Linked DNA regions of Homo sapiens: region 2 is linked to region 1. Evidence: fine-mapped expression QTL. A gene starts in region 1. The other region holds a variant in brackets. All regions are shown on one strand. Distances are from middle to middle.

Region 1 (5,376 bases):
TATTTTTAGTAGAGACGAGGCTTTGCCATGTTGGCCAGGCTGGTCTCGAACTCCTGACATCTTAAACATCTCAACTATTCAAACACAACCTAATTAACATTTAACAAATATAAAATACAAAGCTTTATAATAATCATTCATTCAACTGTATTTATTATCTACAAAAATATTGCACGAGAAAGTGGCCTCTACTGATAATTCCTAGCTCAAAATAAGCTAATATTCTGCCTTCTCCTCACCTCTCCCATACATACACTGTTACTCTGTGTGTATATGTTTTAACAAGCAAGGAAAAATCAAGTTAATTAGATGCAAAGTTTAAAACATAATCATGCCTAATATGTCTGCTGTGGTCTGAATTCTGTCTCCCTAAATTCATATGTTGGAATCCTAACCCCCAAGGTAATGGTATGAGGAGGTGGGGCCTTTGGGAGGTGATTAGATCACCAGTTAGTGCCCACATGAATGGGATTAGTGCCCTTATAAAAGAGACTCCAGAGAGCTGCCTGGCCCCTGCCACCATGTGTGAAAACAGTGAAAAGGTGACTTAGGAAGAGCCCTCACGAGACACTGAATCCACTGGGGAACTGATTTTGGACTTCCCAGCCTTCCAAACTCTGAGAAATAAATTTCTGTTGCTGACAAGCTACCTAGTTTATGGTATTTTGTTACAGTAGATTGAATGGGCTAAGACAGTATCTTGCTAGCCTCATTTCCTACTACACATCTCCATTCTTGCATCCTTCCATGCTATATAAGGGTAATACTACTTCCTACAATGCATCCTAATTCCTTCCTACTTTCTTTCTTAAAAAAAAAAAAATCCCTGTGAGGGGATCCTTTCTACTTGCTACTCACATTCACAATGAGGCATTCTTCCCCTTCCCAAAATGATCTATATAAATCCTATTCAACTTTCAGGCCCAGCTCAAAGGACACTTTTAGATCCTAAATACCTCAAAGGGGAGTTCATAACTCCTCCCTCTCATACATTCATTCTCAATGGAAGGGCCCACACTTTCAAAAATCTAGCAGTGTAATGTCTTAGGTAGGATAGCTCTTTATTCTGAAAAGTATATCATCATACCTCACTCAATATCATTTTTGCATCAAAATTAAGATTCTCTGCCCAGGCGTGATGGCTCATGCCTGTAATTCTAGCACTTTGGGAGGCCAAGGTGGGAGGATGGCTTGAATCCAGGAGGTCAAGACCAGACTGGGCAACACAGCAAGACTCCATTTCTACAAAAAGTTTTACAAATTAGCGGGGCACGGTAGTCCGTGCCTGTGGTACCAGCTACTTGTGAGGCTGAGGTGGGAAGATCACTTGACCTCAGGAGTTCAAGGTTGCAAAGAGCCATGATTGTGCCACTGCATTCCAGCCTGGGCCACAGAGCAAGATCGTCTCCAAACAACAATTCTCAAACTCACTCTTTCTGTGTAGTCCACTAGTTACCTCAAATTTCAGTTTAAGTTTATATTAGTCAGGTGGGAAATGAGACCATAAAGTGAATCATTCAAGCACCTAGCTGGCCTGGGCACTTGGAATAATAAGTAAGGAACGGTTGCTACCTAGAACTTACATTCCACAGGGAGAAACAGGTTAGCATACAACAACAGTGTGTGAAAGTGAAGGAGACAAACACAGGAAAATGACAGACTAAAAATGCAGGAGTGAGTTAGGGAAAATTCATAGATTAAATAATTTTATAGTATATTACTTTTCTAAAAAACTGCTGGAGGGAAAAAAAGAAACTGACTAACCTCCTAGGGGAACATAATTATCAGGACTTAGTTTTGCCTTATTCCTCCCAGAGACCAAAATTTAGCTTGTTGCATATGATGGAGCAATGTTTTCAATAAATGTACAGCAAACCACTTATAACCCAACTCAATGAAAAAACCAACTGAAGCCTCAACCTATTTTCAGACAGAAAGAAAATTTGCAAATATAAGGTTCTCCCAACTAAAGGCAGACAGGGCAAAACAAATGAACTCTTTAGAAGGTTTAAAGAGACTGTCACAACCTGCCAACCTGATTGTCAGTCCTCAAATGCCCTTGGTCTCTGCCTCCAAATGAAAACAAATCATTTGTTTTTAGTAATAATAGCCAAGCTTGTAAATAAGTATTTTTAAACTTCTCCAACTGCACCTCCACATTAAAAGATGCTCAAAATAAAAAAAATTCAAAACATTTTTTAGCTATTTCTGTCAAAAGACTAGATCTCTCCTGAGGTCACAGTATGCATGCTGGCCCTCACTTCACTGCTCTGTAACACACCACCACTTCGATTTTGCAATGACACTAGGTGAATAGGCTTCCAGGATCTCTTCAATGCCTCCAAAAACGAAAAGGAAGAAGCAAACCTATAAATCCCTATCTGCCCGCCCTACAGCTCCCGGGAAGCAACAGTCCTCAAATTGTTCCTGCTTAGACCCCTGAAGCCCGTAGAAGGAAATGGGGACAGCTGCGACGGCGAACCGAGCGAGGACATCCGATAAGGGAAGAGGAAACGTGGATGGAAGAGGACGAAGGGGAGAAGGAACACGGAGAGAAGGGGGCAGTGGAGATAAAATGGTGAAGAGGGGTGAGAAGAGCAAGGAAGAGCAGCGAAAACTAGGGAGGAAAGGGGGGAAAGTAAAAATCACATAAGAGGAAAAAAGGCAAAATGATAGAGGAGAAAGAAAGGAAGGGTTAGGGTTAAAGGACAAGGAGTGGGCGACAAAGGGAATGCGAAAAAGGCTGTCACTGGGGGTGATAAAAAGGATGTCATCGGGGAGAAGGGAGATTCAGGGGGTGTCACCTAAAGGGGTTCACCGAAGCAGGTGAATGGGGAAGGAGGAGCTGAACACCGAGGGGGCGGTAACGAGGGAGAGAGGTAAAGGCAGGGAGCCCGAGGGGACACCAGAGACAGGGAGGGGCAAGACCGCAGGGGCCAGCGCGACGGGCGGGGGCTAGGGTGGCGGGCGGCTGCGGCTAGGGCAGGCCTTGCTCCCTCACCATGGCTGCGCCGGCCTGGTCCTCGGGCATGCAGCCTCCGTCCTGGGTGCGGCGGCGGGCCGGACCGGAGCCCGCCCCCAGGCTGAGCCGGCGCGGAGGCTCCAGGAGGCTCCGGCGAGCGGCGGCTCCGGGCTTGGCCCAGGCCTCGGCCTCTTTCCCTCAAGCTAGGAGCGTAGCAGTAGCAGCCGCAGCCGCAGCCGCAGCCGCAGCCCGAACCAGAGCGCAGACTCCGCCCCCGCGAGGACCCGCCCGGGCGCGCGAGCCCGCGCCTGGACCCGCCTCCGCTCTCAATGCGCAGACTCAGACGAGGGGGTCCCGCCCCCCCCAGCCCGACCTCCAGCTTCTCCCCCTCCCAGGCCCTTAAAGGAGCCACACACCCCCAAATCCTAGCATCCCTTCAAAATATGAAAAGCTTTAAATATTACATCATGACGAGAGATTAGAGCATCGCTCACTTCGGTCACCTATAGACTCCTCTGTCATTCACCATCATTCTCTAAGATTTGGGCTTCTGGTTCACTGTCATTCATTACTACTATTGTCATAACTCTTGGTTATTTCAAAATTCGCTTAATTCTTCCAATCCTCTGGCCTCTCAGATTCTTCTCTAGGGATCATTCTTGGCTCAGCCTCTCACTCTCATGCTCATACGAATAATTGTAACTTCTCTACAATCTCAATTTTAATCCTCTAACTCCCATTGCAACCTTCTTCCTTTCTTTCTTTCTTTCTTTCTTTCTTTTTTTTTTTTTTTTTTGAGATGGAGTTTCGCTCTTGTTGCCCAGGCTGGAGTGCAGTGGTGCGATCTTGGCTCACTGCAACCTCCACCTCCCGGGTTCAAGTGATTCTCCTGCCTTAGCCTCCCGAGTAGCTGGGATTACAAACACCCGGCACCACACCCGGCTAATTTTTGTATTTTTAGTAGAGAAGTGGCTTCACCATGTTGGCCAGGCTGGTCTCGAACTCCTGACCTCAGGTGATCCGCTTGCCTTGGCCTTCCAAAGTGCTGGGATTACAGGCGTGAGCCGCTGCGCCCGGCCACAACCTTCTTCCTTTCTAGCTCACTCTGTCTGATAATACTCCAACTCCAAAAACTTCAACTCCAAGACCCCAAATCCATTGATCCAACTACCTTTTCGCTATTCCTCCCCACGCTGGCCTTATGTACTCACTTTCTTCCTGAAACAGCTTAGATTCTATCGTCCGTCATGAAATGGAATCTAATAGAATCTAAGCTGTTTGGGGAAGAAAGTGAGTACATGAGGTACATGAAGTCGATTTCTTCAGTATTACCTTCATTTCTCTAGTCGTTCTCTGCTTTCTTTGTACTGACAGAACTCCAGCAATGGAGTGGGTGGAGAAAAAGCCAAAAGTGGTTGACTGACTCCCCGTAAATTTGAGATCATTATTCTCAAGAGGCCATAATGAGTGGCTACCCTACCACATTTCTCCAGTTTCACACACTCTCCCACCTTGCTACATAACTATTTCAAGTCTCCTGTCTCTTCAAACCTCCGACACTTCCTCCCTCATCTCATTTAGCTGATGATTTTGCTTCTAATTCACAAGAAAATCAAACAAACCAAAAAGAACATCTACAAGTTCCCAGCACCCACCATGACTTCCAACGAACCTGTAACTCTGCTTTGATGCTCTCTCTGCCTTCCTTTCCTTACTACAAGTTAATTATTTGTCTTTTAGCTAACATCAAATCCTCCTCAGTTCTCAAGCATCTGTGCTAAAAGACCCAGATTTTATCCCCAATCACAAAACTAAATTTCTGTAAAATACAATCAAAATTAATTACTAGAAAAAATTAAAATTTAAAAACAAGCATCCAAAATGCAAGCCCAGATTTTTTAAACCTGCTTAACCATTTTAAAGTGTACAGTTCAATGGTATTAAATACATTCACATTGTTGTGCAACCATCCCCATCAAGAAGCTCCAGAACTTTTTATTTTTTCTTTTATTTATTTATTTATTTATTTATTGAGACAAGTTCTTACCCTGTCACCCATCAGGAGTACAGTGGCACAATCACGGCTCACTCAGCCTCAAACTCCTGGGCTGAAGCGATCCTCCCACCTCAGCCTCCTAAGCAGCTAGAACTACAGGCACATACCACCACGCCTGGCTACCTTTTTTTTTTTTTTTTTTTGTAGAGACAAGGTCTCACTGTGTTGCCCAGGTTTGTCTCAAACTCCTAGGCTCAAGTAATCCTCCTGCCACAGACTTCTAAAGTGCTAGGATTACAGACGTGAGCCAATGTGCCAGGCCTCCAGAACTTTTTTATCTTGCAAAGCTGAAAGCTTGTACTCATTAAACAATAACTCCCCATTCCTAACTTCCCCCAATCCCTCGCCATCACTGTTC
Region 2 (5,376 bases), 85 kb before region 1:
CAACATGGTGAAACCTCGTCTCTACTAAAAATACAAAAATTAGCGGGGCGTGGTCGTGGGCGCCTATAATCCCAGCTACTCGGGAGGCTGAGGCAGGGGAATTGCTTCAACCTGGGAGGTGGAGGTTGCAGTGAGCCAAGATCATGCACTGCACTCCAGCCATGGCGACGGAGTGAAACTCTGTCTCAAAATAAATAAATAAATAACCAATATTGAGGTGCCTGAGGGAAAAATTATGCATCTAGTAGGAATGACTCTTAGGAATGATCTCTAGACTAGGTTGCTGGTTTACTGTTAATTATGATACTAATTACCTGTATGCTACCATCTCACACTCTGGAGTTGGCCATTTCAAAATAGCTGAATGCTGGAAGACAAAAGACACACAAGAAAGGATTACAATATTTATTTAGCACTGCATTATTTACTACATTATGAGGCTTTGATAGTTTAACCACTATGAATGTCTTTTGTTGGTATGGAATGACCCTACCAAATCATCCAGCAGAGAATTCCTCTGGCTACGACTCAATGTCCAAGCTTGTTCACCTCTGGATATTAAATGGGCAATAATTCCAGCTGCAAAGTAACTGACTTCCACTTCCACACTGTGTAGGAGACTACTGATGTGGTCTATAAAATCTTTCCACATTAATTCAGAATGTAATTCTTGTACTTCAGCTATATTGTTCTGGAAAAAAAAAAGAAAATATAAAAATTAATGTAATATGTATAGTAAATGGTTAAGATAACTGTTTTTAGGCCCTGGATAACAGGCAATTCAGGAAGGTGAAAGAAAAGTATTTCCCTGAGAGAAAGTATTCAAATGAGGGCAGTTTACAGACTGCAATGAAGGTAAGAGTAAGCCAAAGACAAAGTAGCAGTTTTGTTGAAACAGAGATCATAGTTTAGGGTGGTCAAGCAGCAAAACTCTGTAGAACAGAGTGCTGGAAAGGACAAAGCTCCACACTCAGAGACAGAGCACACATGACCTGTACCCCAAATCTCTGGCTCAGTAATGACAAGGGTGAAACTCCAGGAGGCTAGGGAAAGAACTACCAGAAAGTAGTATATGAATAAATCCTAAAGTCACACAGGGATAGGAGTAGTTCACATTTCCACTAGCCAGACTCAAGAGACCTTATAATAAGCAAAGTATTTGATAGTAGTAGGGCTAAATTATATATGAACCGTAGGGTAAAGTCTGATAAGACGCCACTCTAACAAAACAAATAAATAGGGCTGGGTGTGGTGGCTCATACCTGAGAGGTTGGGAGTTTAAGACAAGCCTGGCCAACATGGAGAAAGCCCGTCTCTACTAAATACACAAAAATTAGCCAGGTGTGGTGGTGCATGCCTGTAATCTCAGCTACTTGGGAGGCTGAGGCACGAGAGTCACCTAAACCCGGGAGGCAGAGGTTACAGTGAGCTGAGATCCCACCACTGCACTCCAGCCTGGGAGACAGAGTGAGATGCCATCTCAAAACAAACAAACAAACAAACAAACAAACAAACCCAAAACAGCCAAGCATGGTGGTTCATGCCTGTAATCCCATCACTTTGGGAGGCTGAGGCAGGCAGATCACCTGAGGTCAGGAGTTCGAGACCAGCCTGGCCAACATGGAGAAACCCCATCTCTACTAAAAAAATAGAAAAATTAGCTGGGCGTGGTGTCATGTGCCTGTAATCCCAGCTACTCGGGAGGCTGAGGCAGGAGAATTGCTTGAACCTGGGAGGTGGAGGCTGCAGTGAGTGGAAATCGTATCACTGCACTCCAGCCTGGGCAACAGAGCGAGACTCCGTCTCACAAAGAAATAATAATAAAAATAAAATAAAATAAAATAACACATAAACAAGCTTCAAGAAGAGCAACTTGATCTGCAAGTAACTGCATGCAAGAACAAAGTATAAGACTCTTTAGAGAAAAATAATAAAACCTAGCAATCACCAAGTTACATTTCACAAGGACCGGCATCCAATAAAAAAATTACCAGGCATACAAAGGGGCAGAAAAATATGATTCATAACCAGGAGAAAAATCAATCCAAAGAAATGGACTAAAAAATAACAGAGATAATAGAATTAGCAGACAAGGACTTAAAGCAGCTATTATAAATATTATAAATATAATTCAGACATAAACATGAAGGGAGAAAATGAAGACATAAGAAAGACCTAAATGTAAATTTTTTTTTTTTTAGATGGAGTCTCGCTCTCGCCCAGGCTGGAGTGCAGTGGCGCGATCTCAGCTCACTGCAAGCTCCGCCTCCCAGGTTCACACCATTCTCCCGCCTCAGCCTCCCGGGTACCTGGGGCTACAGGCAACCGCTACCATGCCTGGCTAATTTTTTTGTATTTTTAGTAGAGACGGGGTTTCACCATGTTAGCCAGGATGGTCTCAATTTCCTGACCTCGTGATCCGCCCGCCTTGGCCTCCCAAAGTGCTGGGATTACAGGCATGCGCCACCGCGCCTGGCCAACCTAAATGTAAATTATAGAAATTAAAAAAAAAACAAAACTAAGTATCTGAAAAGCAAAATATATTGGATGAGATTAACAGCAGATGAGATGCTTCCGGAAAAACAATCAGTGGACTAAACAACAGAGAAATAAAAAGCATCCATGGCAGGGCATGCTGATTTACACCTGTAATCCCAGCACAGGAGGTTGAGGTGGGAGGATCACTTCAGGCCAGGAGTTCAAAACCAACCTGGGCAACATAGGGAGACCCTGTCTCTATTCACACACACAAAAAGAAATAGAAACCATCCAAATCAAAGCACAGAAGAAAAAATCAGACTGGGGAAAAAAGCCAATAGTGGAGTTCTGGGACCTGTGGGATAATGTCGAGAAGTCTAACATGCTTATAACTGAAGTCATAGAAGAAGCAGAGATTAGAGAGGGTATGAAAAAAGGTATTTGCAGAAATAATGGCCAAATTTTTGCAAAATGTGATAAAAATTATAAACCCAAAGATTCAACAGAAAAAAATTGTCCACTTAGACTTCAATAGCCAACCAAAAATTTATCATTCAAAAAATCAAAGCAAAATAAAAAACTTTGTTAGGTAAACAACACGTGAGTGAGAAGTCATTGCTAGCACACCTATAGGATAATAAATGTAAGAAAAGAATAGAATGAGAAATGTGAGTAAATATGAAAGATAAATTTCTCT[T/CTCT]TTTTTTTTTTTTTTTTTGAGACGGAGCCTTGCTCGGTCGCTCAGGCTGGAGTGCAATGGCAGGATCTCAGCTCACTGCAACTTCCGCCTCCTTGATTCAAGTGATTCTCCTGCCTCAGCCTCTGAGTAGTTGGGATTACAGGCAGCCACCACCATGGCCAGCTAATTTTTATATTTTTAGTAGATACAGGGTTTCGCCATGTTGGCCAGGCTGGTCTTGAACTCCTGACCTCAGGTGATCCGCCCGCCTTGGCCTCCTAAAGTGTTGGGATTACAGGTGTGAGCCACCCTGCCCAGCCAATTTCTTGTTTTTAAATTGAGGAATGATGAGCACTCCTGCTTCTGGCCAAGGTGGAGTAAAAACAGATTTACACATCTGCCTGAAACAACTAAAAAATCCAAATAAATATGGAAAAACAGTTCTCAAGATACTGGTCACAAGCAATAAAGGACAGTGACTCTCAGTGTCCTTTACTGGATGGAAAACAAAGTGAGCTATTGCCTTTAAAGTTTCCAGGCTGTAGCACAGGGATACAGACCTGAAGCAGAGCTCAGTAGACTGAATGGAGTAGGAGATGAGGTGAACAGTCCACAGAGATGAAGGTAACTCACAGGACAGAACACCAGGGAGAAGGGAATTTGCACATAAAGTGAGTCCAGCCATCTGTAGAGTCCCACTCTATTCAGCAGAGTAATGATAATAAAATGAACACAAGGAAGCTGAGGGCAGGAAAATAACCATCTAAAGAGTTAGAGAAAAGTGCATAGTGCTCACAGAGGGCCAGGAATAGTGCATGTTCTCACATATTCTCATCACCCAGTATGGAAAAACCTTTCATTCACAAGGCACTGGGTAGAGTCCTCAGGAAGGTCTTGTTTCAGTAGCAGAGAATAATTAGCCATAGCCTGACCACTGCTCTGGAACCTCCTAATAAATCATAAAAAGCAAGTGATCAAAGTGATCAAAATGTTTAAAAGTAAGTTAACTGCATCCCAGAACAAAGTTCAAGAATATTCATAGAAAAACAAAAATATTCAGCAACCAAGAAGGTAAAAATTCACAATGTCTGGCATTCAATCAAAAACTACCAAGCAGAATGGGAGAAAACATTTGCAAGACATATATCTGATAAGGGATTAATATCCAGAATATATAGAGAACTCCTAAAATACAACAACAAAAACACAAACAACCCAATTTAAAAATGGGCAAAGGAATTGAATAGATATTTCTCCGAAGAAGACATACAAATGGCCAATAAACCCATACAAATATACTCAACACCACTTATCATCAGAGAAATGCAAACAAAAACTACAAGATACTGTCTCAGACCCATTAGAATGGCTACTATTAAAAAAAAAGGAAAATAACAAGCGGTGAGAATGTGGAGAAATCGGAACCCTTGGACACTGTTGGTGGGAATGTAAAACAGTAGAGCTGTTGTGGTAAACAGTATGGTAGTTTCTCAAAATTTAAAAATAGAATTATCATGATACAGTAATTCTATTTCTGGAACTATACCCCATAAAATTCAAAGTAGAGTCTTAAAAGAGATATTTGTGGCCGGGCGCGGTGGCTCACACCTGTAATCCAGCACTTTGGGAGGCAGAGGCAAGCGGATCACCTGTATGATTCCACTTACATGAAGTAGTTAAGGAGTTAAAATCATAGAGACAGAAAATAGAATGGTGGTTACCAGGGCCTGCAGAATGGGGGAATGGAATAGTATTGTTTAATGGTTACAGACGTTCAGTTTTACAAGATGAAAACAGTTACAGAGATGAGTGGTAGTGATGGTTCTACAACATTATAAAAGTATTTAATACCACTGAACAATACACTTAAAAATGGTTAAGATGGTAAATTTTACGTTGTTTACCACAATTTAAAACATAATAAATTTTTTAAAAAGTAAATTAAAACCTAAGCATGCCAAGTATCAGGAAAACATAATTCATAATGAGGAGAATAATCACTTGAAATTGACCCTGAACTGACACAGATACTAAATAAAACTAGCCGATTAGGATATTAAAAGAGTTATTAAAATTTTATTTCATATATTCAAAAAGTAGTAACACGGAAGATACAAAAAACACCTAAATTGAACTTGTAGAGATGAAAATGACAATGTCTAAGATGAAAAAATCTACCAGATGGCATTGTAGCAGATTAGATATTGCAGATGAAAAAAAAT

Which allele goes with the higher level. Alleles are on the strand shown, and positions count from the first base shown. SD is a standard deviation of normalised expression in the study named.
With allele CTCT in place of T in region 2, the expression in monocytes after R848 of the gene that starts at base 3,232 in region 1 is higher (moderate effect, 0.41 SD a copy in Quach 2016).

The links. PIP is the estimated chance that this variant, and not a neighbour inherited with it, causes the effect.
Region 2: its variant is fine-mapped to the expression of ZYG11B in monocytes after R848 (Quach 2016, PIP 0.95).

The regions. Positions count from the first base shown.
Region 1 is chr1:52,724,309-52,729,684 of GRCh38, reverse strand. It overlaps ZYG11B (zyg-11 family member B, cell cycle regulator), which reads right to left and starts at 3,232. Exons shown (of 14, transcript NM_024646.3): 1 at 3,002-3,232. The coding sequence starts at 3,031. RefSeq lists a silencer at 2,842-3,421.
Region 2 is chr1:52,808,851-52,814,226 of GRCh38, reverse strand. It overlaps ZYG11B (zyg-11 family member B, cell cycle regulator), which reads right to left. Exons shown (of 14, transcript NM_024646.3): 11 at 494-691; 12 at 315-367. Among named protein-coding and RNA genes, the nearest start is that of ZYG11A, 31 kb to the left of the region's middle. The variant T/CTCT (reference allele first, on the strand shown) is at 3,176.